Linked DNA regions of Homo sapiens. The protein of the gene in region 6 interacts with the protein of the main gene of each other region in a pairwise test. Each region holds a gene or a part of one and is shown on either strand. Other genes may lie near its edges. The genes, in order: CNTN1, GABBR1, TMEM231, DRD2, HTR4, GPR37 and SLC41A3.

Evidence for each region.
Region 1: the proteins of GPR37 (region 6) and CNTN1 interact in a two-hybrid assay, tested with the Homo sapiens proteins (one large-scale study listed by BioGRID and IntAct).
Region 2: the proteins of GPR37 (region 6) and GABBR1 interact in a two-hybrid assay, tested with the Homo sapiens proteins (one large-scale study listed by BioGRID and IntAct).
Region 3: the proteins of GPR37 (region 6) and TMEM231 interact in a two-hybrid assay, tested with the Homo sapiens proteins (one large-scale study listed by BioGRID and IntAct).
Region 4: the proteins of GPR37 (region 6) and DRD2 interact in a two-hybrid assay, tested with the Homo sapiens proteins (one large-scale study listed by BioGRID and IntAct).
Region 5: the proteins of GPR37 (region 6) and HTR4 interact in a two-hybrid assay, tested with the Homo sapiens proteins (one large-scale study listed by BioGRID and IntAct).
Region 7: the proteins of GPR37 (region 6) and SLC41A3 interact in a two-hybrid assay, tested with the Homo sapiens proteins (one large-scale study listed by BioGRID and IntAct).

What each region holds. Positions count from the first base shown.
Region 1 is NC_000012.12:40,936,758-40,940,768, forward strand, and holds part of CNTN1 (contactin-1 isoform 1 precursor), read left to right. Parts: intron 1-23; coding exon 24-148; intron 149-812; coding exon 813-930; intron 931-2,577; coding exon 2,578-2,728; intron 2,729-4,011. UniProt on the Homo sapiens protein: Contactins mediate cell surface interactions during nervous system development.
Region 2 is NC_000006.12:29,630,201-29,634,902, forward strand, and holds the start of GABBR1 (gamma-aminobutyric acid type B receptor subunit 1 isoform a precursor), read right to left. Parts: upstream 2,984-4,702; 5' UTR 2,650-2,983; intron 2,583-2,649; exon of another isoform or gene 2,497-2,582; coding exon of another isoform or gene 2,482-2,496; intron 2,186-2,481; coding exon 2,101-2,185; intron 1,402-2,100; exon of another isoform or gene 1,400-1,401; coding exon 1,196-1,399; intron 1,190-1,195; exon of another isoform or gene 444-1,189; coding exon 258-443; intron 1-257.
Region 3 is NC_000016.10:75,539,024-75,543,034, reverse strand, and holds part of TMEM231 (transmembrane protein 231), read left to right. Parts: intron 1-351; coding exon 352-433; intron 434-1,579; coding exon 1,580-1,685; intron 1,686-2,860; coding exon 2,861-3,041; 3' UTR 3,042-4,011. UniProt on the Homo sapiens protein: Transmembrane component of the tectonic-like complex, a complex localized at the transition zone of primary cilia and acting as a barrier that prevents diffusion of transmembrane proteins between the cilia and plasma membranes.
Region 4 is NC_000011.10:113,419,481-113,423,491, reverse strand, and holds part of DRD2 (D(2) dopamine receptor), read left to right. Parts: intron 1-4,011. UniProt on the Homo sapiens protein: Dopamine receptor whose activity is mediated by G proteins which inhibit adenylyl cyclase. Positively regulates postnatal regression of retinal hyaloid vessels via suppression of VEGFR2/KDR activity, downstream of OPN5.
Region 5 is NC_000005.10:148,504,351-148,508,361, reverse strand, and holds part of HTR4 (5-hydroxytryptamine receptor 4), read left to right. Parts: intron 1-4,011. UniProt on the Homo sapiens protein: G-protein coupled receptor for 5-hydroxytryptamine (serotonin), a biogenic hormone that functions as a neurotransmitter, a hormone and a mitogen.
Region 6 is NC_000007.14:124,755,413-124,759,423, reverse strand, and holds part of GPR37 (prosaposin receptor GPR37 precursor), read left to right. Parts: intron 1-4,011.
Region 7 is NC_000003.12:126,014,357-126,018,367, reverse strand, and holds part of SLC41A3 (solute carrier family 41 member 3), read left to right. Parts: intron 1-1,492; coding exon 1,493-1,637; intron 1,638-2,794; coding exon 2,795-2,874; intron 2,875-4,011. UniProt on the Homo sapiens protein: Na(+)/Mg(2+) ion exchanger that acts as a predominant Mg(2+) efflux system at the mitochondrial inner membrane.

The DNA.
Region 1 (4,011 bases), on a different chromosome or scaffold from region 6:
TTACAATGTTCCTTACTTTTTAGCATTCCCTGAGTGGGTAGAACACATCAATGACACAGAGGTGGACATAGGCAGTGATCTCTACTGGCCTTGTGTGGCCACAGGAAAGCCCATCCCTACAATCCGATGGTTGAAAAATGGATATGCGGTATGTATGTTCAAGTGCTTTGCTGTTCCTGAGTCCCTGTTCAAGCAGTGTTTCAGGGTAGTCCTGGGATAAATTTAGCAGGAGAGACAATACAGAAAGGGCACTTGGGCCCTGAAATATAAAAGCTTCCTAAAAAAGACAAAAACTGAACATAAAGTATCTTCTTTCAGTTTAAACAACTTTCTGTAATCTTACTCTACCTTCTCTCTCTCTCTCTCCTTATTTTTTTCCTTTGTTCCACTTTTCCACCCTCTTCCTACTCATCCATCTCCAATACCTGATATTGTCCTCTTTTTCTTGCCACTATTTTCCTGTACCCCACAGAGACAGAGGTAAGAGTGAAGCTCTAAGTCCTACCTTTGGCCCTGGGGACAAGTAGCAGCAGTGGGATTCTTCTCTACCTTCCCACTGTAATCTCCCAGCTGGTCCAAGAGGGGAAAAGGTGGACTCTCAGCTCTGTAGGATGAATAGAACAAGAGCCTTTGGGCATGGTAAGTGGGTTTTCCTTTCCCATGCCATGAAAATCCCACTCAGTTCATCTTAGGTAACAGTGGGGGCAGATGAACATAATGTATCTAAATGAAAAGACAACCAAACCCAGACCTAAGTGAAAGTATTTCTATTAAAGTTCATTGAGAATATGTTTCAATTTTATTCTTTTCAGTATCATAAAGGGGAATTAAGACTGTATGATGTGACTTTTGAAAATGCCGGAATGTATCAGTGCATAGCTGAAAACACATATGGAGCCATTTATGCAAATGCTGAGTTGAAGATCTTGGGTCAGTATCATTTCTAATTTCTGTTAAACATTGTTAAAGCAATATGTCATATCACACAAAATGTTTATTGAGCCTACACAAAATACCCAGTATTGTGTTAGGTGTACAACATATGTTGGTTGTTTACTGATTTATTTATTGCTAATTATCATAATTCAGACTAACGAAACAATGGAATAGAATGAATCTTTGCCACAACAAAAGTCTTCTTCAGAGCATCAGCAGCAGTGGCCATACCTAGGAGCACATTAGAAGTGCAGAATCCCAGGCTCACCCCAGACCTACTGAATGGACACTTTAAAAAGATACCCAGATGATTTTAATACAAAGATAATTTTGAGAATGACCAGACCAGAGGATGAAGAGTCAAAACCCAGATGAAGATATGCTTAGGCCTAGAAAAGCCTCCAGAAAGTACATAGTTACGGATGATTGTAATGTGTTGAAATATATGGATGAAATCTGCTTGGAGTCTGCCAAGGGAAGAGGAGAGTGAGCAGTGGATTAAATGTGTGGATGCTGAGGAAAGTCTGAGCATGACATCAATGAAGTAACCTTTTTTAAGCCTCTGTATTCTGTTCTAATAATTATTGCTCTGTACTTGGAGGTAATGATGAACTACAAATGATCATGTCTCCTTAATTAGTTGATTAGATCCATTATTCCCATAGCTGTTTATAGATAGATCCTGAAAGCAGGACTCCAATTATTTTGGCATTTTGCAGGGTGTTTGCATACAGATGATGCTCAGTAATTGTATAAAGAAGGAGAGACTGCATTGTTTAATGAAAAGTACATGCTTTGGAAACAGAAGGACCTAGATTCAAATGTGACTCCCACTTATTACTACCTGTGGTACCTTTGCCAAATTAAATAATCCTAATAGATTTCAATTTTCTCATTTATAAACTGGGAATAGTTCATTCAACATGTGGTTTAGAGGATTGACTAGGACCATATGTCAGTGTGTATAATGCTGGTCAATTTTTTCCAGCCTTTCACTTTACTTTCCTTGTGGAATTGAGTCAAAGCAACAGAATTCAGAGTTAATTTTAAGGTAAATGTGTATAAAACATTTGATTGAAATTGAAGTTATTTATTTATTGAGACAGGGTCTCACGGTGTTGCCCAGCCTGGAGTGCAGTGAGGCGATCACGCTTCACTGCAGCCTTGACCTTCTAGGTTCAGGTGATCCTCCACCTCAGCCTCCTGGATAGCTGGGACTACAGGCATGCACCAACATGCCCAGCTAATTTTTTTGTATTTTAGGTAGAGATGGAGTTTTGCCGTGTTACCCAGTCTGCTCTCAAACTCCTGGGTAAGCCATCTGCCCACCTCAGCCTCTGAAACTGCTGGGATTATAGGTGTGAGCCACCCATGCCTGGATTCTAATTAAAGTTTCTAATAATCAATTCAGTTATCATCAAGAATTGTACATTTGAATTGGGTGAATTTTATAAGTCAAAGTTATTAAATAAAAGTTACAAAGCATTAGGTATAGAATGCCTATTGGTGACAGCTGATCATATTTACCGAGATTAATCCTTTCCATTAACTATTAAGGAGAATAAAAGATTCTACAACACAGAAGCAATGTTTAGGCTTTACAAACAGAAAGAGAAAGATAACAATTTGTTTTCTTTTTAGCGTTGGCTCCAACTTTTGAAATGAATCCTATGAAGAAAAAGATCCTGGCTGCTAAAGGTGGAAGGGTGATAATTGAATGCAAACCTAAAGCTGCACCGAAACCAAAGTTTTCATGGAGTAAAGGGACAGAGTGGCTTGTCAATAGCAGCAGGTCAGTGCTGAAACTAGAAATCCAATTGCAAAATCTGTTTGAAAAAGTTTATTTTATAGAAGACTTGTTTATATGTTAATAATGAAAATGTTTTTTGCTCTGAATTTTTTTTTTCACAGAAGATCCTGTAGTTCTAAGATGGACAGAAATACCTATCCCTGTCAGTATCTATTATAATGAAGGTTTAATTAACAGGACTCTATAATGTATAAGGAATTTAGAAAATTGAAGCTCAGAGGTGTTTTTTTGTTGTCTTGTTGTTATAAATTGCCCAATGTCACACAGCTAATAAACAATGGGAAATAAAGTAGGATCTCTCTAACATATTTTTCCCCAGTATAGGCATCTGGCATCTATATCCATTCATATTCAACTGAATTTTGTGCAGTTAGCCTATTAAATATTTTTGTAGAAAAATAAAAAGGTGATTTCAAAGTGCAAATAATCTCTTCCTATCTCAAAATGAACAAGATGTTATCATCATCTTCCTTATAAATGGACCATCTACCAATGTTTTGGTGGTTTGGGGACAAAATGAAAAAGCAGTGTACAACTTATATAGATTATTTGTATAAAAGCCACACTGAATAGTTTATATGTATCCTAGAAGAAGTAATATTGAGTGCAAAAATTATGACGAGGAGAAAGCCAGGATGGGAAATGGGAGGGATGGGATGTGTGGGTTGGCTTGAGGGTGTATGTGAGGGTGTATGTGAGGGTGTATGTGAATGTGAGGGCAGCATGTACAAAGGCCCTATGGTGAGGAGTTTAGAATGTGTAAGAAATTGCAGAAACTGAAATCAGTGTGATTTGTCTTTAGAGGAAAATGGAGGAGACTTTTAAGAGATGAGACATAGTAAGCCACATCATAAATGACAAAGTTTTCTATGCTAAGGGGCTTGGGCTTCATCTAAGAGTAATATAAATCTGTTTAAAGTCTTAAACAAGGGAGGACAAGGATCACTTTTGTCATTTGAAAGACTGTTATTACTCAGATGTAGAAAATACATTATTTTCTTCACAGTAACCCAATAAAGTAACATGGGAATTATCATCCATATTTTGATGTGTCTAAAGCTTGGTAAAGTTAAAGTGACCTTCTGCAAAAATATATTCATGCTATCTAAACTAGAACTTGAAGTTGTAAGACATTGATATAAATTGAGAATATGCCAGCACAGCCCTCTTATTAGGATGAGCACAGGCACGGCTGTTTATGGAATGGGGCAAGAGGGCAGGGACATCAGGGGCTTCCCTGAACACACTGACTTTTAAAGTTAATA
Region 2 (4,702 bases), on a different chromosome or scaffold from region 6:
GAGGTCTAAGAATCGGGAGCAGGAAGATTTTTTTAAAAGGTAAAGGAAGGAAGCCCCCAACCTACAGAGGATACCGGGGACTGCAAGAGGAAGTTTGAGGCAGGTGATGGAGGAAAAAGGGACTTTCATCTCCCCTTTCCAGTGTCCTCCCCCACATTTTTATAGCTCTCCATTCTTTCCCATTATCCATTCCCACCCCACTCCCATCCTCACACAAGCGTCCTCATCAGCTGCATGCAGGCAGCTGTTCCCCTCACCCTGGCAGTGGGGCTTGGGGGTGCTCCACTGGCCCTGACTACAGATGCTCCGGGAGCTGCCCACCAGATGGAAGTCGGGGTCACACCGGAAATCCACCCGGGCTCCGTCCAGAGCTGGGAGGTCCCCACCCGTCAGGAAAACCTTCCCATTTTCCAGGGTCAAATAAGACTTGGAGCAGATTCGGACTGTGGAGAGATAGGAAAATAAGAAGAGAGGCGAGTTGAAGAAGGCTCTTTCCCTTTAAAGAGCAGGGGACTCAGGTGCAGGTTTGGGTCCACAAGCATCCTGCTCTAAAGAAAATCACATGTGAAAAGGATTTGCCTACCTATCTTCCAATCCTCCCTTACCTGTGCAAGCATCCACACATTCCCAAAAGAAAAAAAAAATTACCATTTTAGGAACCCAAGATGGGGCTATAAGCACACAAAATGGGATCTCTTCAAAGTCAGCTACAGTGGGCGGTTCTCTGGCTTTGAAATATGTAGATGTATATAACTTTGGATGCACAATCAGATTTGCTTTTCTTATTATAGTTGGCTTCTATTAATATTAAACTGGCTTTTGTTTCTTGGGCATATGGTCTCTGGGTTGGTGACAGAGGTATTCAAAAATGTGATGAAATCATTTTAGAATTTTTTTGTCATCATCTGCCACTAATGATCCTCAAAGAGAATAACTGACAAGATGAATTATCAATGTTATAGGCCAATGATCAGTGGCCTAATGAAGGGAGGATGAAATGAACTGTGCAGGCTGCTAGCTCTACTACCTCCAACCGCACAGAGCAAAATTGCTCTTATGTAGTAGTCATTCAATAAATGTATTTGTGAATTTTGGTATACTGGATTTAAAGTGCTGACTTGCAAGCAGTAATGCTAAGTTTGCGGCAGGAAAAGGAATAGTCTTGAAGAGGGGAGGGGCTTCCGAGGCTACTCACCACAGCGGCTGGGTGTGTCCATATCTGTCCAGGAGCCGTTGGCCAGGCACTTGCGGACCTTGGGCCCCACCACCTCGCGCTCCCCCCGGCACACATACTCAATCTCATAGTCCACTGGCAGGAAGTTGATAGCCTTCACCTGGTCCCGAGTCAGGCCCCGGTACCTGATGCCCCCTTCCCAGGGCGGGTGTATGATCTGGCAACCTAAGGGGTGAGTCGGGGAGGCATACAGAGAGGAATGGTGGGAAAGAGGAAAAGGCAGGCTCCCCAGTGGGAGGAAGGGGAGAGTAGGGCGTGGTCTGTGGGCAGGCTGGGGACAGAGGAAGAGGGATGGGGCACTAGAGGGTGGGAGTGGGGACAGGTACAGATCCCCTGGCTAAAGGACAGAGAGTAAAGGGCCAGGGTTAAAGCTGATGAGAGAACCCACAAGTGGGGAGGGAAGGGTGCTGGGTGGAGGTAAGAAAGAAAAGTAATTAAGAAATCATGAAGGGTATGATATGTGGGTGGAGCTTTTCTTTAAAAAAAAAGGCTAAATGAGGATATTCGAGTTGAATTAGGATAGGAGGATAAAGGGAGGCTAATAAGATCATCTGGACAGCAAAGTGGGACCAAGAAAAGGGAGTAATTGAGGTAGTAATGTGGGGCTGGGAAAGGGGATTGAGGCGGAGAAAATGCACAGGAAGGTGGTATAGTGTAGCAATGTGGGCAGAGAAAAGAGGTGCTGGATAGTAACGTGGGGTGACAGAAGGAGGTCAGCAGTAGTAAAGTCGGGCCGAGCAGAAGGGGTTGCCAGACCGGGATGATATGTGGGACTGATGGGATAGTGATGAGGACCAGAAATGAGGAGATGCAGGGAAAGGGAAGTGGAGCGAAGGAGGGCCGGAGGTCGTCGAAGAAGGATGCACCTTCTGAGGTGGCGTTGGGGGTCTGCGCCCCGCCCGCGCCCGGGGGGCGGAGGAAGAGTGGCGCCAGTAGCAGCAGCAGCAACATCTAAGTGAGAGGCGGCCATGAGGACTGGACCGAGCCCCGCCGGCGCGGCCCGCACCCGGAGACTACTCGACCTCTTGCCGGTTGCCTCGCAGGCTCCGACCGGGCTCAGCCTGGGGACCAAGAGAGCGCCCCGCGGAGGAGGCGGGGGCGGAGCCCCGCGCGGGGTGGGGGGAGAGGAGGAGAGAAAGCCTGTCCCCACCCTCCTCCTGCCTCCCTCGGCCCCCAACCCTCCCGGGACTCCACCTCTCACCACCTCCTCTCCCCCGGCCCCCGCGGCTCGCAGAAGCCTGGCTTACCCACGCTCCCGGCATCGGCCGCCTCAGCGCTCCCCGATTCCATCCCCGCGGTTCCTCCTCTCCCCCAGCCCCGCTTCCCCCAGCTGGGCCCTGCGCCCACTGCCCCCTCCCCCACCACGCCGCGCGCCCCCTCTCCGAGCCCTGCTAACCCGGGGCCCTGGCTCTTACCTCGGCGCGCGGGCCCGGCTCCCCGGCTCTCCCCGGGCCTCAAGGCCCCAGGCCCGGCCGCTCCTCCCCGCTCCCCCCTCCCTTCTCCTCCACCTTTCTCCTCCTCCCGTCCCTCCTCCCCTCGAATCCAGGCTCCAGCCTGGCCAGGGTCTCTCCCCTCCTCTCTCGCTTCCCCCAAACCCCACCCCTGTCTCTTCTTCCCCGGGGCGGCGGCAGCCACGGGAGCGGGGAGCGGGGAGCCGGGAGGGAAGGAGGCGGCGCCGGGGACCAGGGAGAGCTCCCGGGCGGAGGGAAGAAGGAGGGTGCAAGGGAAGGCAGGGCGGGGGGAAGAGAGGGGAAGACCGGGGAGAGGGCGCCTCCCACAACCCGAGCCCCGGGAGCCGCCCCGGATCCCAGCCCCGCCCTGGACCGCCCACAGCGCGGTGGGGCGGGCGGTGGAGAGGCGCGGGGCTGAGAGGTGGGGGAGAGGGAGGTGCCCTGGTGCACACGCACTCGTCGGGGGGCGCCGGTCACTGCCGAGGGACCTGCGGGCCAAACAACTGGAAGCTGGGGTGGGGGAGAGGGAACCCGAGCCAAAGGCAGAGGAGCTGGCGCTGAGACAGGGAGTCTGGGATGAAGGTGGAGAAAGACGGCTGCACAAAGAGAAGGCAGCCCTAGATCCGGGTGAGAGGAGAGAGGCAGAGGCAGATGCCCAGGAGAACTGCGACCGGAGGGCGAGAAAGAAGCCTGGGTCAGAAGGAGGTGGGGGAGGGGGACTGAGGACCACCTAAGCGCAAGAAGGGTTGGGTGTAGAAGAGATTTCTGGGAGACTAGAGCAGCTCCATGGTCCAGCAGCATTGCTACTCGCCTGCTCTGCAGGGAACGCGCAGAACGGATTGGAGGCAAAAAACAAAACAGGGAGGGGGACATCAAGGAGAGAAATTGAAGTACGAAGGGAGTAAAAGGACAAGAGAAAAGAACCTCAGGGTGGTTTAGAAGCCAGTATTACCTGATGTACTCCAGCAGAGCCTAGCAAACAGTATTTCTTGACCAAGGGCAAACTGGAAGCTCTAAAGACAGCAGGTACAGACCTTTTTGACGGCTCCAGAAGCTCTTGGCTATACCTTGAAGTGGAGGGGTGTGTGTGTGTGTGTGTGTGTGTGTGTGTGTGTGTGTGTGTGTGTGTGTTGTGCTGTTGTTGTTCGTAGGCCTGAGTTTGGGCTGGGAGAGGAAACAGTGGGCTCCTTGTTGGGGGGGACAAAAAAAAAGCTGCTTTCTGGCTGGTCCTAGGGGGAAAAATGGTAGGAAGAAACCAAACACTGAGAGACTGACTAGAATTGAGATTCTCAACCTCCAACCCTTTTTTACAATAAATATTTTGTAATGACACTTTTACTGTCCTAAATTGAGATTCATAGATGAGGCTCACGCCTGAAATCCCAGAACTTTGGGAGGCCGAGGCGGACTGATCACTTGAGCTCAGGAGTTTGAGACCAGCCTGGCCTGGCCAGCATGGCGAAACCCCATCTCTACTAAAAATAGAAAAATTAGCGTGGTGTGATGGTGTGCGCCTGTAATCCCAGCTGAGACACCAGAATCGCTTGAACCCGGGAGGCAGAGGTTGCAGTGAGCCAAGATCGCACCACTGCACTCCAGCCTGGGTGACAGAGCAAGACTCCATCTCAAACAAAAAGAAAGGGAAGGAGGGAGAGAAAGTCATAGATGATATAACCTACCTACATACACAACTTTAAACAGAAAGCAAAATGCTTCCCTTTCTGTAACGTAAAGGGGAAATGAAAGAAAAGTAACTTGCAATAAAATAACATAAACAGTATTTTAATGTGTGAGTGCCAAGGCCCGACTACCCTAGAAGTCCTGATGGAGTAAGCAGATGCTTCCACCTATTCACAGAACCACGGGGATGAAACTGCTACCAACACAGGCTGATCCAGGTGCTGAGTTGGTGACTCAACTACCTCCAGCATGTTGCCATCAATGAAGTGATTTAACAAAATGTTGAACAACTCTTGGTAGCAAAGTTAATTTTCCCTAATTTTACACACAACTATAA
Region 3 (4,011 bases), on a different chromosome or scaffold from region 6:
AAATAGCTTTAAAACCTGTAAAACATGGACACTGACCCCTTATTTCCATCCACAGAAAGAAAGACTGAGAGTAAATGGGCTTAAATTGTTGCAAGAGAGTTTATTCATCTTTGAAGAGAAGATTATTGATACTGCAGTAGGCCACCAAGAACAAGAGGGTGCTCTGTGGGACCAGCCTGGGTGGGCAGCAGCCTGTTTTATTCATCTTTGAAGAAAAGATTATTGATACTGCAGTAGGCCACCAAGAACAAGAGGGTGCTCTGTGGGACCAGCCTGGGTGGGCAGAAGGGTAGAAGGAAAAGGGGAGGAGTCTCCCAGGTGCTCACACCACATCCTCCTCCCGTGTCCCAGATATCCGTGATCAACGGGACCAGCCCCTTTGCCTATGACTACGACCTCACCCATATTGTTGCTGCCTACCAGGAGAGGAACGGTGAGTCACAGGTAGAGCCCATTCAGCCGCTGCTCAGGACTTTCAAGGTTAGTGGGGGCAACAGAGACAAGCAGAACTGGAACCCTTGTGATGAAAATGTCAAAACCCGTGAATGCTCAACGATGGGAGCAAATATGCTGTCCAGGATTTGTCTTTTTCGTCCTGATCTTCAGACCTGGGACCGCCCCCACCCCTCCAGCATCCCATGGTCCAGCAGGCTAGTGATGGTTAAATGCCATCATTATCCCACCACTGGCTTAGTGGGTTTCTCTTTTAAAAAATATAAGCCTAATTGAGTTGTTCCCCATACCACACCTATCCACACCTATAACAGATGCCAAAGACAAATTGCTGTTCATGCTTTTCAGAGAAAAACAGAGAACGTGGGTGACTCTCCCCACATTAGCAGTCCAGCAGGAGAACAGGAGTGCCCCTGTTTCCTGCCAGAAGGCACAGTGTGCTTATTCCTTACAGAGCTCTAGGCCATGGCATGTGTGGACTCGGCACGTTTGTCTGGTCGGTGGCTGAGGTTTTCTCTAAAAGCATCTACAGTGTTACTTGGCAAGCAGACATCATGGAGACTATACACAGACGTCTCACAAGGGGGATGACTGCAAATCCAGTATTGCTTACTGATTTTATGGCATATACTAGTGGCATTATTGCAATAATAGAGGGAATTTTAAAACAAAAGTAGAAAACATTGCCCTACAAATCAACTATTTTTTCATTCCTTTCATTCTTTAGCCTTCTGCAGATCTTTTTATACAGCCATTGTAGTGTAGAAACACATTGGGATCCAAGTTACTTTTATTTATTTAAACTTGGAATATAAATACTTCCCCACACAGCTACAAAGCTGTGATACTACTTTTAGTGGCAGTATAGTATTCCTTCAGTTAGCCATTCAGCACATGTAGAAGAAACTCTTTCCAAGTTTTTTATGTATTTTAACAAAAGTATTTTGACTATTATTTTAACAAATAATGTGTGATCAGCTTTGCACATGCAATTTCTCTTTCCTTCCGAATGATTTCTTTCAGTTCTGAAGCACAGGATAATTTCCAGGTATCAAATAATCTTTATAGCCTTCAACTGCCAGAGTCAAACAGCCATCGTGGTTAATGGTTAATGATTGCATTGCAGTTACCACCGTCCTGAATGATCCCAACCCCATCTGGCTGGTGGGCAGGGCCGCAGATGCTCCATTTGTGATTAATGCTATCATCCGATACCCTGTGGAAGTCATTTCATATCCTTTCTGTTAAAGAGTCCATGTTAAGGCTGGATGTGGTGGCTCCTGCCTATAATTTCAGCACTTTGGGAGGCCAAGGTGGGAGGATCATTTGAACCCAGGAGTTCACAACCAGCCTGGCCAAGATAGTGAGTCCCTGTCTCTACCAAAAAAAAAAAAAAAAAAATTAGCCAGGCATAGTGGCGTACATGTGTAGTCCCAGTTACTTGGGATGCCGAGGCAGGAGGATTGCTTGAGTCCAGGAATTCAAGCTTGCAGTGAGCGATGATTGTGCCACTGTACTCCAGCCTCGGTGACAGAGTGAGACCCTGCCTCTTAAAGCAAACAACAATTTAAAAAAAATCAATGGTAGCTCAGTTTTCAAAGAGGAATGATTCCTTAGTTGTCTCAAGTAGTAACAGACGTGGGAGGTTTTCTCTTGGAAATCATGACAGGGTTATAGCCTCATAAAAATGGCTGCGTCTTTGACATCTTAGGCTACATGTCTCAGAAAATGACTGTATGTCTGCTATTCATATAGGAACAAATAATTCATGTCTTGGTCCTATTTGTTTCCAAGCAATTCTTCTAGGTAAGAATCATCCATATTTATGTCTTAATAATCATATGATATCCCTTTTATGCTAAGGTTATGTGAAACATTCTTGCCAGTCCCTGTCTGACCTAAACTTTGGTTTAATTTTGACTTAGGTCGACTAATGGAAAATGAAACCAACACCAACACTGCAGAGAAGCAAACAAAAGAGAAGGCATTTTAACTGGGGTCTTAGGAATTACAATTCCAGAGACACAAACCTAGGAAGCAGCTAAATTGTGTTCCGTACAGGTGCAATTAGGCAGGGGCTAAGGGTGTTCCAAGTTTACACAACTGGAAGATTTTAGAAGATGGATGGATGGCTGGTTAACAGCTCAGGATATCTCTAGTCCATGATCAATCTAGTTTGGCATAGTTGTCTGTTTAGGAGGTTGGTCATCAGGCTTGGTATATAAATAGCTCAAATCAAATGTGGCTGGTTTTACCATTTGGCCAAGTTCAGGTCAGCTTCCATCTGGGTGTGTACATGACAGAGGTCCTGCCTCCTTTCGAGATACCTCTGCCACAGCCAATTCCATCTTGGATTTTCTCTTCATACTTAACACCATGTGGCCCTTCACTCCTTAACTGTCCATACTTATCAGCCAGGATTCTGGGAGATGGTAAAGTTCGCCTGGGTGCAGTATGTCAGCATCCTGCTTATCTTCCTCTGGGTGTTTGAAAGAATCAAGATCTTCGTGTTTCAGAATCAGGTGGTGACCACCATTCCTGTGACAGTGACGCCCCGGGGAGACTTGTGTAAGGAGCACTTATCCTAGAAAGGCCATTTCTGAAGACTCAGCAGGACCGTGGCTGCCTCATTGTCATCTTCTGGGAACATCTTAGGACCTTTTGAAAGAGCCCAGCGGACACCTGCGGGCTTGTGTGCTTTTCCCTCAGAGACAACGGTTCTTTCCGGTTTTGCTCTACACAGTTCCGTATCTTCAGAGCTCCTGCAGAATTGTCAGGGACTAGTTTGTGGAAAGGTCTGAGAGTTCCTGGAGGCTATAATTAGCTTTTTGGGTTTTCCTTCTTTGCCTTAGCGTTGAATTTCAGGAGAAAATTGCAGTCAGTTCAGACATCTTGGAAAGAGTCCCATCTCTGGTCAAGCAGAGACTTTTCCTCTGTTGAACTGAGGAACACACTGTGCATTTCTACCTTCTGTTGTGAGCCACTCTTACTCTTTTCAGGGCTCTCTTGTGACAAACATGCCAATCACTAGCACTTTGCACCCCTGGGCTTCTCCATTTCCCATTCACAGCTTTGATTTCCAGAGCTGAGGCCTTTAACTGGAGACCTGGAGGGGCAGGGCCCAAGGGCAAGGGCCGCATTAGCACAGGCAATCAGGGAGGGCCGCTGAAGGACACTTGGACCGTCCACCTGCCCCAGCCCAACAGTCAGTCATCTGTCATCAGCTCAGCTGAGCAGCCCTGGATCTTTGCCGTACTGTGACTGGGCTCTTTGCCCTATTTTTCCCTCTGTCTGTGCCCCTGGATGGCAGGCTGAAGTCAGAGGGGCTGTTTCATTCTCAGCCCCCTCAGCAGCACTGGGGGAAGAAAGCATTGTCACAACAGGTTCTTTCTGGCCCTCACCCAACAGCCTGGGCACTTGGCCCTCCTCCTCCTTGACAGCCCTCCCCCTTCCTGCAAAGGACAGGGGCGACAGGGGTTGGTGTTGGGATTGGCTCCCGCTGCCTGACAACCACAAGTTTATTTGGAAGGCTAGCGGGAAGCCCAGCGGCTGGCGTTT
Region 4 (4,011 bases), on a different chromosome or scaffold from region 6:
CCAGCCTGGCCAACATGGTGAAACCCCATCTCTACTAAAAATGCAACAATTAGCCAGGTGTGGTGGCATATGCCTGTAATCCCAGATACTTGGGAGGCTGAGGCAGGAGAATTGCTTGAATCTGGGAGGCAGAGGTTGCAGTGAGCTGAGATCATACCATTGCACTCCAGCCTGGGCGACAGAGCAAGACTCTGTCTCAAAAAAAAAATAAAATTAAATTAAAACAAAAACAAAATAGGAAATAGAAGCTTTGGAGAAGTTGCCTTTCTTCACCCAGGTCACAGGGAGAAATGCTGATGGAGAAATCCCAAAGCAGATATTATTCTCCAGGAAGACACCTTCAGAGCCAGCGAGCAGATGTGGGAGCATTTAGGGATCATCGGTGGGCACAAGCTGGATCCTGCCCCTTTCTCTGCCCAGCTTTCTAGGATGGCATGTCCAGGACTCAAGCAATCTGGGAGTCTAGGTGCATGGGAAGGCATGGGATCAGGCATTTAGGAAAGTGCCGGTGCTCTGCCCACTGAACCGTTACCTTCCTTCCCTGAGCAGGAGAGGAATTGACCAGTGCCTCTGAGGCCATCCCTGCCTGAGAGGGAAGGGGTTGTTGAAAGAAAATGAGAAAGCTTTGTAGGTTTAAACAGGGGAGAAATCTAGATGAGGACGCTCAGGTGAGGAGGCGAGACTGGTGGAAAGTGGCACACCTCCCTGTCCCTGGGCCCCCAAGGGGCTCGTGCGCTTACTGTTCTCACCACCACCCCGGGCCCAAGGGAGCTCTGATCCATCACCCCTTGGCTTCCTTTACTACAGCCAATGCAGGCTGCAACTTCCAAAATGACCTGACTGGATATTAAGGAAGAACCAAAAGGAAACACAAATACAAAACCACATAAAAATATTCAGTTGACACAGGCCAGGAGTCCAATTCCCCCTGGATCCATGTTTATGAGGGCCCCTAGACTCTGTCCATGCCTTCTTAATTCTTACGCTTGATCCCCTCCTTCTTCCCTCTTCCAAAGGAGGGTCCTAGGTCTCAGACCATAGGGAAAAATGGTAGAGCAAACAAACTCTCTGTGCCTCAGTTTCCTCATCTGGAAAATGCAGATAATAATAGTATCATACATCATAGCATTGTTGAGGATCGAATTAGTTGATGTATGAAAAGTGATTAGAATGATACATGGCTCACAGTGAGCACTGTGTAAATGTCAGCCATGGCGATGATGATAAAGATGAAGATGACAATAGACATCCAGCACTGCTCCACATAGGGAGGACTCTGTCTTTCCTATTCACCGCCCCCTTGGGATAAAGAGGAAGGAGAGAGTACTCCCTATGTTCGCCCCAGGCAAGTAGGTACCCTCTTCCCAGAGGAACGTGTGTTCTACCCAGGGCTCTGGGCATGGCTTCTGTTAGCTTCCAGACCCCCTGTCCCTACCCAGGCACTTGGGTAGGGACAAATCCATACATGGGCTATAGGGGGTTCCCAGGAATCTGTAAGTCTTTCGAACAGATCCTTTAAACATGCTTGTTCACCTTATTTTAAAGGTGAAGCTGAGTGTGTCAGGGGAGGAGGGTGCAGAAGCCATTCTCAGAGGGCAGGGCTCAGACTTCCCCACAGCATCTCATCAAACTAGAGCTGGGCACTGAGCCTTGTTTAATGGACATTATCTCAGCGATTTGTTGTCCCTAGAGAACGTCCCAGGTGACGTCTCACCCTGCCCTGATGTCCTATCAGCGCACCCTCACAACCACGCACTGTCCCCTCTCTAATACATGCTCTTGTCATCCAGATTTTTTCCTCCTGTTCCATTTCCAGCAATGCCATGCCAACATCTGTCTGGCTTAGGACTAAGTGTGCGTTATTTATCTTGCTAAGTGTATGAAAAGCACGCTGGTTTTGGAGTGAGAGGACCAGGTTCAATTCCCAGCTCCATTCCTTTCCATCTAGATGCTATTGGAAGAGTTCCTGATGTCCACATGTGCCATTCCATGTCAGCCTCACAACCCTTTAAGGAGCGGCTTCCTGTGTGCATTTATTTTCTAGATGAGGAGATTGAGAAGATGAACAAATATCTCAGAGTTATTCATTCACTCAGTCAGCACTGACTGAGCACTCCGAGGTCTTACCCCAATCCTTGTGCAATGGGCTAAGGCACTGACCTGCTGGGGATGCAGAGGTTGACAGGGCCCCTACAGTGCAGTCTGCTGCCGGTGACAGTGGAGCAGTCCCCATAGGAGGTGTGGGGCATAAGGCCCAGCATGAGGGTGTCAGGGAAGACTTTCAGGGAGAAATGATGCTTTCGGAAAAATTATGCAGGAGAGGGAGGGAGACACTTGCATTCTCAAGAAAGCCACCCAGCAGGGAGAGGGAGTAGCTGGCTGGAGGTATGGAGGAGAGGTGGTTATGTCATTTGCCTCTGAGGCTTACTGTCTGCATTCTAAGATATAAGCATCAAGTGTTTGGAACAGTGCCTGACACATGGTAAGTCCTTAGTATTATTACAGTTATTAGGACTTAGCTGAGCCAGCTCAGGGCCTGTACTGCAGGTCTCAGCTTTATGTGAGCAAGAGCATTAAGGAATGATGCCTGGATGCCTGGGGGTGTGAAGAAAAGAGCCTTGGGTTCGACTAGGGAACCTGGGGCCACTCCTTCCTCTGCTACTAAATCACCAAGTGATCTTGTTCTGTTTTCTTCTCTGACCCTCCCTAGTTTTGTCCACCCTTGAAATAATCATCTTTCCTTTTCACATTTCATGCTTACCAAGTACTTGTCACCTAATTATCTCCTCTCTTGATAAGCTAGATGGTCCCTTCCAGGGCAGCTTAGTAGAGAGCATGGGATGTGATGTTTCAGATTCCAGCTCTGCTGCACACCTGCCAGGTGAACTTGGCCACGTTACATGGCCTCTCTGGGCTTCAGTTCCCTCACCTATGAGTGGGATAAGCAAGCCCTTCTTGTAAAAGTTTTAAGAACGATACATGAGATAAAGTGCAATGCCCACAGTAGATGTCTTATGGACAGTGGCCACCAATGCATTTTCTTGAGTCTTTAAGTTAGCAGCCCTAACTACTCTCCAAGGCAGCTTCCCCTGGGACCACAGAGGAAATCTCTTTGTTATTCTGGGCTCCAGATAGGCCAGTGCAAGGAGAGATTTAAGATGTCCATGAAGGCAGGACTGTGTCTGAATTGCTCACAACTGTGTCCAGGAGCCTAGGATAGAGGCTGGAACACAGTAATTTGCTCAATAAGTGTTTGTAGGAAAGAAGGGATGGCAGAAAGGAGGGAAGGAGAGGAGGAAGACAGGGAGGAAGGCCCTGATATCTCAACCTAGATCCCCAGTGGCTCCCAAGTACTGGTCCCAGGAGGGGCTTCAAAGTGGGATGTAAATCAGGTAGTGCTGGTTTTCTGCCCAGTGGTACCCTAAAGGCACACTCTGTTTATGCCAGGAAAGCCCTTTACGTACCCTCCTGCCTCCACCCGCAAAATGGGCATCCAGCTGTTAGCTCCTGCCAAACTGGTCAGCGCAGCAGCACAGGGAGCTGGGAGAGAGGCCCTGGTACGGGGCCCCCATGTGAGCTCCCAGGAAGACAGTGCCGCATGAGAGGCTTGCTGTGTTCTGGGGCAAGCTGCTGTTTCTGCCACACAGGATGACAGCAGCTGCATTGCCCATCATTGAGCTTAAATGCCAGCATTTGGTTGGATGCCTAGGAGCAGAAGAGAGGGCAGTGATCAGAATGAGCAAGGTTATAATTAGCCCTGCTGCCAAGCTACACGGTGACACGAAGTCTGCCCTACTCCGGGTTGCGGGAGGGGGCTTTCACGCTCCTCTCTGCTCCTATTGGTAGAAGCCAAAGGTGCATCTCCCTGTCCTGACTCCATCCTCAGGGAACTGGGGCTGCTCCAAGCTTCCAGAGCGCTAGGGACAGCTGCCGTGAGTGTGTGCCTGCGTAATCTGCCATGAGTGTGTGCCTGTGTGTGAATGGGTGTTACGTGGGGAGGGGGGAGGGCGG
Region 5 (4,011 bases), on a different chromosome or scaffold from region 6:
TGTTCTCAGCTATGCAAAGCTATGTGTGATAAATACATTCATCCTGTAGCAAAACAGGATTGCCAGTGACATTTTTTTCTTTGCCCTGAGATGCGCAGGAATTTCTAAGGAGTAGTTCCTTCTTTGAAACAAGCATTTAATTTTTCTGATGATGATTAGTATTCAGCTGTTCTGGCGGCTGAAAATTGGGGGATATTTTCATTTGCATGTGTAAGAAAAGAAGAAAAGAAAAATAAGAATTGCTATAAAATATAAATCCTGTGCCTCAGAGGCTGCTCAGAGCATGAATTCCATTTTTTGCTACAAGTGTAGGCAGATTTGTAGCTAAAGCCTAGCATGGTGTTGTGGTTTCAGCTGGTGGAAAGACCCCAAAGGATACTCCTAGAAACCGACATTCTCTCTTAATTATTATGCCTTCAGGAGTGTCATAGAAAGAATTCAACCATAAAGTGTGTGTACAAGAACTTCTGTGTGGGTGCCAAATAGTTTTTAGCTATTTAATCTAGCAGTTGCCTAAGTACAGGCTGTTGACAACTTACAAACAGCGTATGCTCTGGTAATACATTTGCTAAGTCAGTTGTTTAGCAGTTGATGGTTTTTTTCATAGAGAGTTTGGGAGTTTCCAGGGCAGCCCAAGAAAGCCTATTTTACTAAATAAGATGTATTGTTAAAATCCTGCTGCGTCTGGTAATCTGCAGGATCATTGTAAAGCAAAGAGACAATTTAGAGATGGCATATGGATGTACACTCCATATTTTCTTCCATAAATTTCTTTTTTTTTTTTGAAGAAACTTATATGGTATGAGTACAATTACCATTTTATTTTATTTATTTTTTTATTATACTTTAAGTTCTAGGGTACATGTCCACAACGTGCAGGTTTCTTACATATGTATACATGTGCCATGTTGGTGTGCTGCACCCATTAACTCGTCATTTACATTAGGTATATCTCCTAATGTTATCCCTCCCCCCTCCCCCCACCCCACGACAGGCCCCAGAGTGTGATGTTCCCCTTCCTGTGTCCAAATGTTCTTATTGTTCAATTCCCACCTATGAGAGAGAATATGCGGCGTTTGGTTTTTTCTCCTTGCGATAGTTTGCTGAGAATGATGGTTTCCAGCTTCATCCATGTCCCTACAAAGGACGTGAACTCATCCTTTTTTATGGCTGCATAGTATTCCATGGTGCATATGTGCCACATTTTCTTAATCCTGTCTATCATTGATGGACATTTGGGTTGGTTCCAAGTGTTTGCTATTGTGAATAGTGCCGCAATAAACATACGTGTGCATGTGTCTTTATAGCAGCATGATTTATAGTCCTTTGGGTATATACCCAGTAACAGGATGGCTGGGTCAAATGGTATTTCTAGTTCTAGATCCTTGAGGAATCGCCACACTGTCTTCCACAATAGTTGAACTAGTTTACAGTCCCACCAACAGTGTAAAAGTGTTCCTATTTCTCCACATCCTCTCCAGCACCTGTTGTTTCCTGACTTTTTAATGATTGCCATTCTAACTGGTGTGAGATGGTATCTCATTGTGGTTTTGATTTGCATTTCTCTGACGGCCAGTGATGATGAGCATTTTTTCATGTGCCTGTTTGCTGCATAAATGTCTTCTTTTGAGAAGTGTCTGTTCATATCCTTCACCCACTTGTTGATGGGGTTGTTTGTTTTTTTCTTGTAAATTTGTTTGAGTTCTTTGTAGATTCTGGATATTAGCCCTTTGTCAGATGGGTAGATTGCAAAAATTTTCTCCCATTCTGTAGGTTGCCTGTTCACTCTGATGGTAGTTTCTTTTGCTGTGCAGAAGCTCTTTAGTTTAATTAGATCCCATTTGTCAATTTTAGCTTCTGTTGCCGTTGTTTTTGGTGTTTTAGACATGTAGTCCTTGCCCATTCCTATGTCCCGAATGGTATTGCCCAGGTTTTCTTCTAGGGTTTTTATGGTTTTAGGTCTGACATTTAAGTCTTTAATCCATCTTGAATTAATTTTTTATAAGGTGTAAGAAAGGGATCCAGTTTCAGCTTTCTACCTATGGCTAGCCAGTTTTCCCAGCACCATTTATTATATAGGGAATCCTTTCCGCATTTCTTGTTTTTGTCAGGTTTGTCAAAGATCAGATGGTTGTAGATGTGTGGTATTATTTCTGAGGGCTCTGTTGTATTCCATTAGTCTATATCTCTGTTTTAGTCCCAGTACCATGCTGTTTTGCTGACTGTAGCCTTGTAGTATAGTTTGAAGTCAGGTAGCATGATGCCTCCAGCTTTGTTCTTTTGGCTTAGGGTTGACTTGGCAATGCGGGCTCTTTTTTGGTTCCATATGAATTTTAAAGTAGTTTTTTCCAATTCTCTGGAGAAAGTCATTGGTAGCTTGATGGGGATGGCATTGAATTTATAAATTACCTTGGGCAGTATGGCCATTTTCGCGATATTGATTCTTCCTATCCATGAGCATGGAATGTCCTTCCATTTGTTTGTGTCCTCTTTTATTTCGTTGAGCAGTGGTTTGTAGTTCTCCTTGAAGAGGTCCTTCACATCCCTTGTGAGTTGGATTCCTAGGTATTTTATTCTCTTTGAAGCAATTGTGATTGGGAGTTCACTCATGATTTGGCCCTCTGTTTGTCTGTTATTGGTGTATAAGAATGCTTGTGATTTTTGCACATTGATTTTGTATCCTGAGACTTTGCTGAAGTTGCCTATCAGCTTAAGGAGATTTTGGGCTGAGACGATGGGGTTTTCTAAATATACAGTCATGTCATCTGCAAACAGGGACAATTTGACTTCCTCTTTTCCTAATTGAATACCCTTTATTTCTTTCTCCTGCCTGATTGCCCTGGCCAGAACTTCCAACACTATGTTGAATAGGAGTGGTGAGAGAGGGCATTCCTGTCTTGTGCCAGTTTTCAAAGGGAATGCTTCCAGTTTTTGCCCATTCAGTGTGATATTGGCTGTGGGTTTGTCATAAATAGCTCTTATTATTTTGATATATGTCCCATCAATACCTAACTTATTGAGAGTTTTTACCATGAAGGGCTGTTGAATTTTGTCAAAGGCCTTTTCTGCATCTATTGAGATAATCATGTGGTTTTTGTCTTTGGTTCTGTTTATATGCTGGATTACGTTTATTGATTTGCATATGTTGAACCAGCCTTGCATCCCAGGGATGAAGCCCACTTGATTATGGTGGATAAGCTTTTTGATGTGCTGCTGGATTTGGTTTGCCAGTATTTTATTGAGGATTTTTGCATCAGTGTTCATCAGGGATATTGGAATGGTACCAGCTCCTCCTTGTACCTCTGGTAGAATTCGACTGTGAATCCATCTGATCCTGGATTTTTTTGGTTGGTAGGCTATTAATTACTGCCTCAATTTCAGAACCTGTTATTGGTCTATCCAGGGATTCAACTTCTTCCTGGTTTAGTCTTGGGAGGGTGTATGTGTCCAGGAATTTATCCATTTCTTGTAGGTTTTCTAGTTTATTTGCGTAGAGGTGTTTATAGTATTCTCTGATGGTAGTTTGTATTTCTGTGGGATCGGTAGTGATATCCCCTTAATCATTTTTTATTGCGTCTATTTGATTCTTCTCTCTTTTCTTCTTTATTAGTCTTGCTAGCGGTCTATCAATTTTGTTGATCTTTTCAAAAAACCAGCTCCTGGATTCATTGATTTTTTGAAGGGTTTTTTGTGTCTCTATTTCCTTCAGTTCTGCTCTGATCTTAGTTATTTCTTGCCTTCTGCTAGCTTTTGAATGTGTTTGCTCTTGCTGCTCTAGTTCTTTTAATTGTGATGTTAGGGTGTCAATTTTAGATCTTTCCTGCTTTCTCTTGTGGGCATTTAGTGCTATAAATTTCCCTCTACACACTGCTTTAAATGTGTCCCAGAGATTCTGGTATGTCATGTCTTTGTTCTCACTGGTTTCAAAGAATATCTTTATTTCTGCCTTCATTTCGTTATGTACCCAGTAGTCATTCAGGAGCAGGTTGTTCTGTTTCCATGCAGTTGAGC
Region 6 (4,011 bases):
CTACCATACCTACCATTCACTTAGGAATCTAACAAGTGTTTAAAACCAAATAATTTGGGCCAGGTGTGGTGGCACACCCCTGTAATCTCAGCACTTTGGGAGGCCTATGCAGGCAGATTGCTTAAGCCCAGGAGTTCAAGATCAGCCTGGCCAACAGGGCGAAACTCCATCTTTACAAAAAATACAAAAATTAACGGGATGTGGTGGTGCATGCCTGTAGTCCCAACCATTCAGGAGGCTGGGGTAGGAGGATTTCTGGAGCCTTGGAGGTTGAAGCTGCAGTGATCCATGATCATGCCACTGCATTCCAGCCTAGGTGACAGAGTGGGACCCTGTCTCAAAAAAAAAAAAAAAAAATTCAAATAATTCAGACATCAAATATGGCAACTGGAATGAATCTTTGCTCATTATTTAATGGAAGTCAGAATCAAGGTATCATCTGACCGAGATCCCAGATAACAGATTAAGGTCTGTTTGGACATTAATTGGAGGTTTTGAATGATCGAGATTCTCTTTAGTTTAAAGAACCCACACCTTCATGGAGTGTTGTAGAACAGAAGGCTTCAAATAATTATAATGAGATAACCCCAGATCTAACTGTATTTTTATTTTACTGGGATAAAACTCCTGCACAGAGGTGGAGAGAGAATAAAGGGAACATGTCTTACCATGGCCTCTGGTCTGGGAATAATTTGTGACAAGTCTAGAATCTTTTCTAATGAGAGGAACCAGCTTCTCCAATGACTTTAGCAATACTGGTTTTAAGTTGAGTGGAACAAATGGCTCTTTCATTGCCTTAGATTGTAGCTAGCACTGACAAGAAAGAAAGGGTTTTTGGAGGTTGAAGATGACAGTGCCATACAACTATCTGAGTCTACACAGATTTCCCTAGAACGCCTGTATTCAAGTAATAGAACATTTATCATGGCATATGGTAAATTTTCTTTGAGAGGTGGATTAGTCATTAGGTATTCTGCCGGACTTTTAAGTGGAAACTTACTGTTTTATGAGCAATTTTAAAGTTACTAATAGTATTCTTAGGGAAAATGTGCTCAATATATGAGAATGGTGCTGAACAAATATTTTATGACTTCCCATTAATCTTTTAGTAATCATTTTATATATTCCCATGCAAATGAAAATATTTAGCTGATGACTCTAACAGGAAGAAAAGTGTTTCTTAGAGTGCACTTTTATTTATAACTCCATTTCTGAATGGTGTATGGTGAAGTTAACTGAATTTGGATCTTCCACAAGAAAGAAAAGTTTTATAATATTCAAATAAGAAATCCAAATAGTTTCCTTTTCCATTGATCATAATGAGAATGTGTCCTTTTCTAAAGCTTGTCAATGAAGTATAAATAGGAAAATTGATTTTTTAACTTCCCTTCTATAGATATTGTCTGGCATTCAGCTTTTAAGGATTATATATAAAACAGCAGCACCCAATAACTGATTAAAGAACAATTTGAATAATTTATTATTTTCTGTAATCCTTTTCCATAGGTGTCATCATTCGTTCATTTGTTCACCATTCATTGATTTATCAAATGTTTACCTGGCTTTTCTTCTATGCGAGGTACTATTAGGAGTGGGCAGGAGAAGGCAATACAGGAAGAGGGGGAAAAGTTTCCAAAGATGAATATCATAGATGAGCCACTGCCATTAAAATTACAGAAAAGTAAAGTAATGTTCTACACCATGATGAATATTATAATAGAGGTTTGAACAAAGCATCGTGGAAGCTCAGAAATGGCACTGAAATGGGTCAAGTCACAGTTGTGCTTGTTATGACCAGAGATGGAGAAATTAAAGGGAAAACTGTGCTCCCTCTAATTCTTTTCAGTTACATTCTTACTATTAATCTTCATAAATTTCATAAATGCCTATACAGCCTAGATCCATGATGAAAAGTTACAAATGTGAAAATCTTTTAATTCTTGCTTTTTTGTTTCCTTTAGCTTTCCCAGGATAGAAAGTCCATAATAATAATTGGCAAAATAATTCAGCAAATAGTTCAGTTCTAGAAATTTCTTTTAAAATATGGAATTTGTGCCAGTGCCTAGGATATCTATCTCTGCTTTACAATTAGTCCTTATTAGCTATAAGGACACTAAATACGTCAAAATTAAACATTTTATTTAAATGAATGGCTTATTTGGCAATGTAATAACAGTATATTAAATTGAGTCCTTTTCTTCTGAAAAAATCAAAACATATACAAATTGTTTAACTTGACCTTGGAGAACCTAAGAAAGAAGATGGACAAGGGCGATACTTTAGACTCCATTGTGGAGTCGAGGAAAGGGGAGCACGATGAATGGACTTTCTCAAGAATTGGATTAATCTCTCAAGCACATAATCAGAGTGAAGATTTATTCTGAGCTCCTGAGGGCTCCCAAGGTATCCTGCCATGTCAGCAAAGTATCCTTCCACAGAGACAAGGAGGCAAATGTGTCTGCAGAAGTAAAACAGATATGAGCTTATAAGTTTACCGAAGGCTGAGTGGGTGAGGGTCTACCTTTGCTTTCATATTTAGGCTGCATGGACCTTGATACAATTTTTACACCTTTAATGGCATTCGTCTTATGTGCGGCAACCTTTTAACAGTATCCCATTGGAAGCACATGGACCTGTGTCTGGGATGTAGATTGTGGGAGAGGGATGGGAAGGCAGCTATGCAGTGCAGTTTGTCTCTGCCTCTGCACTTCTGCTCCATCCTCCAGGGATGCGCCTGTCATTTCACTTCCCATGAATTGACCTGCCAAGGTCCAATAATGAACTCAACCTTGTTGCCAAGACTAACTCTTAAATATCCTAATTGGAATAATACTCTTTGTGCCAGAAGAGATGATCTCATCCAAAATTTCAGAGTGGAGTTGAGAATGGGATTACTGCAACGTCAAATATGGAGGGTCTTTTTTTATTTGCAGAGTAAGTGTAGGTACTTTTCATAAACTTCCATAAAACGCAGGATATGATCACTGTGTCAGTCTTGTTCTTGAGACAGAATACTTTCCATTTGTGAATTTGTAATAGTTTTCAGTGTTATCTGTCTGTACACTTGAATAGTTCATAGCATTCATTAATGAGGCCAAGGTCATTGATTTGATCCCTGCCTAGAATGAGACATTCTTATTAGGTCTGTGACTCTATTCAGGGATGTTACTTTTTTCTTTTTTTCTGTCAAAATAGCCCCTTCCTCATCAATTCCCATCTTCAGGGCCTATCTTTACTATTGTCTTCCTAATTCAAATCCTTTTTATATCGGAAAAGCATCTGATAAGCCAATTCGCATCAAGATATGCAATTTAGAAATAACTGCCTTTTATAAGAAGATTGAATCAAGAAAGAAATTTCCTTAACAGACTACCAATAGTGAAATTTTGGTTAAAAGCAGATAAATTCTGTCCTAAAATATGGTTTCTCAATTTTATTAAAATCATGATGACCTAACTATACATAATTTTGTTTTTAGTTTGAGTTCACAGTCATGCAAATCAATATCATTAGTCAGAAAGGGAAATAGGTAAAAATGTGTTACTGCTTTTTGGAAACTCATCAGAACCCCAAGGTAAGGAACTGAAATTCCAGGTCACTTTAAGATTGACTAGGAACATCATAATAATACCAAAGATTGAGAACTGGACTGTGGGCTTGGGGGAAATATTACATTTTGAAATGATTTTGTAATTACTGAGAATAAACATGGAATCTTTAGAATCTAACATAGATGGTTTATATCTTAAGACAAAATGTTGCTAATCTTGCTTCATTTACATTTTTATTTTAATAAACACCTGACAGATTGATAGGAATTATAACATGTTAGGTTGTAGTTAAATGAATTTTTTTAACCATATAAGGAATGTACTGTGCTATAGACATCATAATTGGTAACAAACCTTAATTCAAGATAGGACTATAAAGGAAAAGAGGATTTATGGAATCAAGACAAGTTTTGGGAGAATATGTTGATTTTTAAATAGTCTTAAACGGCTTTTAAAATAA
Region 7 (4,011 bases), on a different chromosome or scaffold from region 6:
AAACTAAACTTAAAACAAGAAGATTTGTATATGGGTTATTTGAGTTGGATTTGCAAAATAAGTGAGAGTTCAGGCATCACATGAACCTTTGCCTCTGCCCCAGGCTGTACCGTGTGCTCATTTCCACATGACTTATGATTTAGACACAAAATCACTGTTGGGGCATCTGTCTCTCCAGTGAGACTGTGACCTTCTCTCTGTTGCACTCAGGAGTCACTGGGACTGGCCTGTATTAGATAAATCTTGACCCGCTGAGGTGTGAGCAGCTGACTGTAATACCTGCTGGGTGTAGTTGGGAATTGGCATTGCATATTGGGGAGGTGTGCTGGGGAAAGCATGAGGCAGGCCCTGGGGGTGCTTGTGAGTAGCTAACTGAAAACTCAGACTGGATTCAAAAGCATCGTATAAGGTGATGCTTCTGCAGGCCGCTGTTTCCCAGAGGGTGGGAGACCTGGTTAGAGGTGGCTGGGCCTGGCTTATATCTCCTGCAGAGGCCACGCCCTCCTACCATAAAGTACCTTGTCTGTAGCCAGTCTGGGGCACCTGAGGCAGAGGAATGGGCCATAACCCTTTAGTGCAGAGAAGGAAGGAGCGGATGTTCCTGATAACACCCCCAGAGAGGGAGTACATGGGACACAGACCCATGCCTGGGTACCCCTGAGTGTTGGGCCCCCTTGGCAGGTGAGCCTGCCCTCCAGAGGGTGGGGCTGAGGGTGAGACGACCACTCTAGAGAAAGCCAGTGTCTTGTTCTGTCACTTGTGGGGGACCCTCACACGGAGCACAACACAGAAAGGGAGGAATGAATGCACGAGATGCCCGAGTGTGTCAGGCTTGTCCTGGGCCCCCGCAGCAGTGACTGATCCAGCACCTGCCCAGTCTTCACTGGCCTCTCGCCAGTGGAGAAGATGAGATGGGGACACGAGTAGCTACCCGGCTGGTGACCCTTGGTTGCCTGGGACTGGCCTCAGCCAGGACCATGGGTGGCATCCCATAGCCGGCCCTGGCGTTCCATGGACCCAGGCCATAGCCCTGACGGGGCTGCTTGCTGTCTAGGCAGCCACCCTTTTTTGCACGTCTGCTTCCTCCTGCTGCCTGTCTAAGCAGGGGCTGTCGAGAAGGTGAGATGAGATTGTGCACCCGAAGTACTGAGCATAGTGCTGGCTCATGGTGCATTCCATACATTGTACTTCTATTTATTTATGACAGTAGCATCAGGGTGGGAGGAGGCAGAACAGGGTACTTTATATGGGGAAAATAGCAAGTTTGCCAGAGAAGTGGAGTTGAATGTGGCAGGAATGGAGGACAGAGAGGAGCTTTTCCAGTTACTTCTTGGGATGGTGAAAGTTCTGTGAAAAGTATGGCAAGGCAGTTCCCCCTCAACTGATGAGGACAGGAGCGTCCTCACCCACCTCTCATTTGTGAAACCCAGGCCCAGCCTGTGTGTGCTGGCCTTGGCCACATGAGCTGCGTGTGTCCCTGTTCTCCTTTCAGATAGTCGGTATCTGACGCCGCTGGTCTGCCTCAGCTTTGCGGCTCTGACCCCAGTGTGGGTCCTCATTGCCAAGCAGAGCCCACCCATCGTGAAGATCCTGAAGTTTGGCTGGTTCCCAATCATCCTGGCCATGGTCATCAGCAGGTGAGCAGGAGCCAGGGCCACGGCCCCTCTTCCTCCTCTCAGCCATGAAGGCCCCTAGAACCAGGGTGACACTCACTGCCTTGGGGGACAGGAATGGAGTGAAATGTAGCTGTGGGCTCTTTCAGTAACTCCCATTGCTGATTGAATCATACCTTTTTTCCTTTCTTCTCTCCCTTTCACTGAGAACCCTGGGCCTTGTTGGTTCTAAGAGAGGCTGCCCTGTTTACATTTGCCAGAGCACCAGGGACCCAGGAAGAGCCAAAGCTGGGGCCGGCACTGGAGTGCACTGGAGCCCCAAGGGAGACAGCGGCTTTCAGGCCATTGCCACTAGAGCTTTGCTGGCCCAGATCCCTGCTTAGGTGGCAGGTCCCCCACCTTGGCCTCAAGGCCACATCTGCTGACTCACTCGTCCTCCTGGTCACTGGCCACACATGGCTACTGGTGGGACCTAGACAGCTGTGGGGTTAGCGCCCTTCCAGAGCCTTAGAACCTTCAGCTGAGCCCAGGTCCACCACCCTCCAGCTCCCTCTCAAGGCTCATTTCCTGAGAGTTGACCTTGATGGGGGCCACCCCTGTCCATTCTGATGAGTTTTTCTAACTTTGAGTCTTGGGGAGAAGAGGCGATAGAGTAGGTATCCTTGCTTCCAGGAGGCTCCTGGGCTCCTTATACAGATTGACCTAGCTTCTCCAGGGCTCTAAGAAGTCCCAAGGGGTGGGAAAGCTTTTGCTAAACTACAGTGGCCAGTGGGAGCAAGGTCTGGCTGCAGCATTTTCTGAGAACATGGGGTGGGCATGAGGTGATCCTCCTGCAGGTTCTGTTTTCTGCTAAAGAGCATCTCAGTCGTGGTGCCGGAGTCTTGGGACAGCCCAGCCAGCTGTGTGCTTTTGAAAAGGCATTTGTTAGTTTTGCAATAAGTGGGTGTTCTCGGATGGCCTTCTGCAATGGTTGAGGCTCAAAGTGGAGATGGAAAAGCATGAGCAGGGTGCAAAGGATGCTGGGGAGACCAGTTTGGCCGCAGCAGATATTTTGTGTAGGGGAGAGGAGAGTGACAGCCAAGGATGGGAAGCTGGGCTGAAAGGGTGATTTGTGTGGAGAGTTGCAGGGCCACTGTAAGTGTAAACTCTGATAACTTGACTGCTGTCTGCTATTTCCCCAGTTTCGGAGGACTCATCTTGAGCAAAACCGTTTCTAAACAGCAGTACAAAGGCATGGCGATATTTACCCCCGTCATATGTGGTACGTATTTGAAGGGTTCCCATGTGGTCCCTGGGTTGGGTAGGCCCACAGGATTGGGTTGGACCGGAACAGCAGACCTCAGAGGGGCAGCACCAGCCCCGCACAGGCAGTTGGGCAGCTGAGCCGTGGACAGACTGCTGCCTTACAGGGATGCTGGAGCAGGTCTTCTCAGATGGAAGAAGCCTGGGGAGGAAGCCCCACACACTGTTCGCAGCAGCTCAGACCCGGCTCCTCACAGGCAGCCCTGGGACATAAGCTCTCCTGACAGGACCGAATTCCAGGCTTTGCAGGCACTGAGTCAAACTCCGGCCTCGATGGCACCTGCCAATTGAGCATGGCCTTCAGAACCGGGGCGCTGGCTCTTGTGGCTTTTCTTTTTCCTTTTTTGGATTCATTGCTGACATCAGAACTCAGATATTTACACTTAAAAATCTGGATTTCTTCTTCTTAAAAATTAAGACTGTAACAAATACCGGGTCTCTACCCTGGGCACTGCAGCAGTGCCTGAGACAGATCCAGGACTGTGCTTCCCAGCTGCCTTGATCTCCCCCTTCCCTGTTGTCTGACACCTGGCTCTCTGCACATACTTACCTCCTAGGCCTACACCCTGTGGGGTTTGTGTGGATGACCCCTCTTTTAACCAAAGCTTAGCTTGGTGTCTGGTGTCTGATAAGTTTCTGTAAATGGAAGTGATCAGTTAGGAGAAGAACAAAACATGTTTTGTCCAGTTTAGCCCCCAGGCCCTGGCCTGCAGGGACTGAAGAAACAGCCTTCAGAGGCTCCTAGGCAGCCCCTGCGTGTCCACAGTGTCCCTCCTCCCTTGCTCCCTTAGGGGACCATGTCTTTATTCCTTGCATGTCAGTGGGCCACCCAGCGTGTCCTCACCCCAACAGTGCCAAAGTGCCTTCACATTGTGCATGAGAACAGCAACAGAGGGCTTATTACGTTGGAGTGATTTTTTGGGATGAGTCACCAACTCGGATGCCTTCAGTGGCCAAACAATCTGCATGAATTATGCAGCTAGACAGTGAGAAATGGCAGGGGTAAGCTGCAGAATGCATTTCTCATATGAACAGTGTGGTGCCTGTCCAGCTCCAGCCAGTAGTTGCCTCGGGAGAGTGTAGGTCCAGACTTGCC